Linked DNA regions of Homo sapiens: region 1 is linked to region 2. Evidence: fine-mapped expression QTL. Tissue or cell type: whole blood. Region 2 holds a variant in brackets; the other region holds the start of a gene. All regions are shown on one strand. Distances are from middle to middle.

Region 1 (2,915 bases), 6.9 kb after region 2:
AGCACTTTGGGAGGTCGAGACAGGCGGATCACGAGGTCAGGAGATCGAGACCATCCTGGCTAACACGGTGAAATCCCGTCTCTGTTAAAAATAAAAATAAAAAAAATTAGCCAGGCGTGGTGGTGGGCGCCTGTAGTCCCAGCTACTCGGGAGGCTGAGGCAGGAGAATGGTGTGAACCCAGGAGGCGGAGCTTGGAGCGAGCTGCCCTCCAGCCTGGGCAACAGAGCGAGACTCCGTCTAAAAAAAAAAAATTGGCCGGGCGCGGTGGCTCACGCCTGTAATCCAGCACTTTGGGAGGCCGAGGTGGGCGGATCACGAGGTCAGGAGATCGAGACCATCCTGGCTAACACGGTGAAACCCCGTCTCTACTAAAAATACAAAAAATTAGCCGGGCGAGGTGGCGGGCGCCTGTATTCCCAGCTACGCGGGAGGCTGAGGCAAGAGAATGTCGTGAACCCGGGAGGCGGAGCTTGCAGTGAGAGGAGATGGCGCCACGGCACTCCAGCCTGGGCGACAGCAAGACTCCGTCTCAAAAAAAAAAAAAAAAAAAAAGAAAGAAAGCAGGGAACGTCACTGAGAGGCTCTTACACAACTCCAGGCAAGAAACAGTGGTGCCTCGGACACAGGTAGTAACGGTGGAGACGGTGAGATTGCGGAAGCTTTGGAAGGTGGAGCTCATGCTATTCCTGATGGGTCAGTTTGGGGTGTAGAGATGGGACAGTTGAGTTTGTCAGCGGGAGGTCATCGATGACCTTGACAAGAGCAGTTTCAGTGGAGCGATGGGGGTGAAAGCCCCACAGAGAGAGCTGGAGAGAGAAAAGGAAGGAGGGATGAAGATGGTCAATTCAGAAAACACTGAGATGTTTTCCTGGAAGGGGGAGCAAAGAAATATGACGGTGTGGGTGTGGGGGTGTGTGTGCATGGGCTTGTGCATGTGTGTGTGTGTGTGTACAATTGGAAGAACTGCAGCCGATTGTGTGGTGATGTGAATGAGCCAGCAGAAGAGGGGGACCCCTGGAGCTGTGGGAGAGACGCAAGGAATTGCTCACTGTTGTCCTGGAGGAGGTGAGAGAGGATGAAGGGCAGTGTCCCAGTGGAGGGCGTAGAATTCAAGTTCCACAAGGCGTCCAGGTAACAGGCACGGATACAGGCGGGAGTGAAGGGAGAGGTGGAGTCTGAGGAAGTTTCCTTCTGATTGCTTCTGTTTCCCAGTGAAACAGAAAGCAAGGTCTCCAGCAGCTGACAGCTAGTACAGCAGGTTCTTTTTTTCTCAGGTGTTATAGATAGCTGCGCCTTCCGCTCACCACAGGTGAAATGGTTGGCTTGTATCTGGGGCCACACCACATAAAAACCATTTGAACAGCAGGATCACACTCAGCATGATGAGAGCCCACATGAGGCTGGAAGTGCAGGAACTTGGACCGGCGGGGGGAACCTGGCAGGTCACATTCCCTCTCAAGGGGTGAGTGCTCACCAAGTGGAATTGGAGTGTGACTCTGTAGCAGTGATTCATGCACAACGTGCTCTCTCTCTCTCTCCCCTCCCTTTACACGCGTGTTTAAATGTGTGTAAATTAGGCTGGGTGCAGTGGCTCACGCCCGTAATCCCAGCACTTTGGGAGGCCAAGGTGGGCAGATCACTTGAGGCCGGGAGTTCGAGACCAGCCTGGGCAACCTGGTGAAACACCGTCTCTGTGAAAAATACAAAAATTAGCCGGGCGTGGTGGTGCACATCTATAACCGCAGCTACTTGGGAGGCTGAGGCATGAGAATCACTTGAGCCCAGGAGGTGGAGGTTGCAGTGAGCCGAGATCACGCCATTGCACCCCAGCCTGGGTGACAGAGCAAGACCCTGTCTCAAAGAGAAAAAAAAAATGTGTGTAAGTTAAATGCACCATGATGAAGACTCCACTATAAATGGTGCCGCTGGAACCTCGGGCCTCCTGACTCCACATCAGTTTTGTCTCTACTATAATACTCCATCTCTCATCACACATCACTAGGGAGCACCAAAATTGCAGGGAAGAGGGTAACCCAGGCTGAAAGGAGGAAGAGAGCACTTAAACTAGAAAATTCTAGAACATCAGACCTCGATGGACCTTCACAGATCATTTGGTCCAACACCCTTATTTGACAGACATGGAAAATGTCATTCACTGACTCCCCCAATATCACACAACAGAATCCTCATCATCCCCATCATCATCCCCATCATCATCATCCCCATCATCATCATCACCATCACCATCATCCCCATCATCATCATCCCCATCACCATCATCCCCATCACCATCATCCCCACCATCATCATCCCCATCATCACCATCATCCCCATCATCATCATCCCCATCACCATCATCCCCATCACCATCATCCCCACCATCATCATCCCCATCATCATCATCACCATCATCATCATCCCCATCATCATCACCATCACCACCATCATCATCATCCCCAACATCACCATCATCATCATCCCCATCATCATCACCATCACCATCACCATCATCATCATCCCCATCACCATCATCACCATCACCATCAACATCACCATCATCACCATCACCATCATCCCCATCATCACCATCATCATCACCATCACCATCATCCCTATCATTATCATCCTCCTCCTGATCACCATAATTGTCATCTGCATGGAAGCTAGCCTATATTGATTACTCCCTGCTGCCAAGCTGTGTCCCATTTCATCATCAAAGCCTCTTGAGGTGGCCACTCTCATTATTTTCATTTTACAGGTGGTGAAACATCACAGAGCAGGTAAGGTATAAACTGGGAGACCCTCCTCCCACCCACTCTGTGAAAACCTTTACTAGAGATCTCGCATTGGGCCACTAACCCTAAGATAGGAGGCAGAAGGGGGCTCCCCTTGAAACTCGAAAGAAGTAAATTTA
Region 2 (2,915 bases):
GCTCAGACTCAACCCGCTCCTTCCCCTCTCCAACTCTCTCAGGTTCTAATCATCCCAAACCACAAGAGCAGTATGATGCCGTGATTAAAAGGCAGGACGGGGTCAGGCTTCCTGGAGTCCGCATCCCAGTGGCAGCACCTCTCTGAGCCTCAGCTTCCTCATCTGTAAAATGAGAGTGATAATAGCATCGACCTTGTAGAGTTGTTGGGAGGATTAAATGAGGTGATGAAGGTAAAGCACTTAGAAAGGGCTTGGTACACGGTCCATACTCAATGTTAGTTTCGTTTCACTGACAACTCCCAGCTGAATTTCTGCTCGCCAGGGATAGACTGTCTTTCCCCTTTTTCTCCACTAGGGGTGCTGCAACCTATTTCACGATACCGGGGAGATGTGCTCCATCTGGGAGGCCTTCCCCAGGTCAGATTTAGCCAGCCCTTCCTGGGTCACAGAGCTTACCCACTGGGACCTCTCGTGCCACCTCTCCCAGGGCCAATCCAACCCCACGTCTTGCCCCACTTACCTCCCAAGCAGCCCTCAAATTTCTCCCCTTCTCTCAACCCCCTGCTGTCTCCCTGACACAGGCTGCCATCGCGCTCATTACGCACCCACTCTCCCCTTCTCTCCACCCCATTGCTGCCTCCCTGGCACCAGCTGCCATTGTGCCCATGCCTCGCCCACTCTGCCCCTCCAGTGTTCCATCCAGAATGGACAGCTGTCCTCACTGTCCTTCCCTGAAGCCTTCACTGGCTCCTAAGTATGGTCCACTAGAGCCTCAGCTGCATAACGCACCCCTTCCTTTGCCAGCTGGGTTCCAGCCACACTGGCCTCACAAGCACCCTGCCCTCTCCCAGCTCAGGGCCTTGGCACATGCTGTTTCTGCCTCCTGGACCCTCTTTCCCCACCCTATCAGTCCTTATTCAACTCCTTTAGATGCTGACCTCCCCAGAGATGCCATCTCTGACCCTCCCACCACCAAGTACATCAAGGTCCCCCATGATGTCTTCATAGCACTCTGTACTTCCTCTCCTTAACCCTTATCACCGTTTATAATATGCAGTTGAATGGCTATTTGAGGAATATCTGCCTCCCCACTTCCTTTAAAAGCTTCCTGAGAGCAAGGCTGTGGATGTCTTTCATTATGTCCCCAGAGGGTTGGCATATGCCAGAGGAGTGAATGAATAAAAAGGGAATATTTCCTTATGTGTCTTTCTCGCATGTCAGGTCCCCATTCCCAGACTGATCCCCTACCCCACCTTGGCCTGGAACTTCAGTGGGAATCAACAAATGCTGTATGGATGAATGATAACACCCTTTTCCTGGTTTCCTTAAGGTTGATATTTTAACTACTCTTAAAGAAACTGTGATGTGTTGTGATAAAATATTATTATTATTATTTTATTTATTTATTTTTGAGACGGAGTCTTGCTCTGTCACCCAGGCTGGAGTGCAGTGGTGCAATCT[T/C]GGCTCACTGCAACCTCCACTTCTCAAGTTGAAGCAATTCTCAGCCTCTCAAGTAGCTGGGACTACAGGCGTGTGCCACCACGCCCGGCTAATTTTTTTTTTTTTTTTTTTTTTGAGACGGAGTCTTGCTCTGTCGCCCAGGCTGGAGTGCAGTGGCTCGATTTTGGCTCATTGCAAGCTCCGCCTCCTGGGATCACGCCATTCTCCTTCCTCAGCCTCTCGAGTAGCTGGGACCACTGGCGCCTGCCACCACGCCTGGCTAATTTTTTGTATTTTTAGTAGAGATGAGGTTTCACTCTGTTAGCCAGGATGGTCTCGATCTCCTGACCTCGTAATCTGCCTGCCTCGGCCTCTCAAAGTGCTGGGATTACAGGCGTGAGCCACCGCGCCTGGCTGATAAAATATTATTAATAATAATATCTACATGGGCATTGGAGCTGGCTGTCACTACCCGCTTATTCTCCCAGGAAGGCATATTCTTTGATCACGAATATCTCTGCAGGCCTCTGTAATTAACTTTCTCAGCCCTGATTGACCCTAGGGGATTGGCAAGACAGTGTCACTATTTTCCTGCTTTTACAGAAGAGAAAAATAGAGGTTTAGGAAAATTAAGGGGCATGCCCACGGGTGGCTGAGCTGGCCTTCTGTGTCCCAGCCCTGTCAGTTACCACTCCATACCTCCCAAAGCCTAGATTTTAAGCCACGCCACTGTACCCAGGGCCTAGTGCAGTGACTGGTGAGAAGGAGAATGGTTAGTAATGGTTGTTGAATGAATACATGAGTGAATGAATGCCTTCTGGAAAGTCTTTTCAGGAGAGGGCCTTAGCTGCAGGGGCCAGACCCCAGGATACCCTGTTCCCCCTTGAGAGACCACCCAAAGATGCTTTCTCTGGTCAGGGCTCTACCTTAGCTGGGAGCCCATGAGGAGAGGAGAAAAAGGGTTCCAGGCAAGGGGAAAAAGAGTCTCATACAGCAGCATCTCCTGAGTACAGCACTTAACAGTTTGCAAAGCCCTTGCATTCACTGCCTCTCCCTGGGATTTCAGAGGAGCTCTTCAAGAAGCCAGGGCAGAACAAATAAACACACAAGGGAAAAAAAAGGAAGAAAAGCTCTCTTTTCCCTCTTTGCAAAGCCAATATGTGTGTTCTTCGTAAACATTTGAGAACTATGCTGTCCAATGCAGTAACCACTAGCCACATGTGGCCACTTAAGTTTAAATTAATTAGAATTAAATACAATAAAAATTTCATTTTTCAGTCTCACTAGCCACATTTATTTATTTTATTTTGAGGCAGGGTCTTGCTCTGTTGCCCAGGCTGGAGTGCAGTGGTGCAATCATGGCTCACTGCAGCCTCAACCTCCTGGGCTCAGGCAATCCTCCCACCTCCGCCTCCCAAGTAGCTGGGACTACAGTCACACACCACCACACCCAGCTAATTTTTGTATTTTTTTAT

What was found. PIP is the estimated chance that this variant, and not a neighbour inherited with it, causes the effect.
Region 1: MDS2 starts here. The variant in region 2 is fine-mapped to the expression of MDS2 in whole blood (TOPMed, PIP above 0.99).

What each region holds. Positions count from the first base shown.
Region 1 is chr1:23,625,673-23,628,587 of GRCh38, reverse strand. It overlaps MDS2 (myelodysplastic syndrome 2 translocation associated), which reads right to left and starts at 1,254. Exons shown (of 6, transcript NR_167910.1): 1 at 1,051-1,254; 2 at 590-807; 3 at 1-81. RefSeq lists an enhancer at 2,681-2,800.
Region 2 is chr1:23,632,572-23,635,486 of GRCh38, reverse strand. All of the region lies in intron 4 of MDS2 (myelodysplastic syndrome 2 translocation associated), which reads right to left. Among named protein-coding and RNA genes, the nearest start is that of MDS2, 6.7 kb to the right of the region's middle. The variant T/C (reference allele first, on the strand shown) is at 1,462.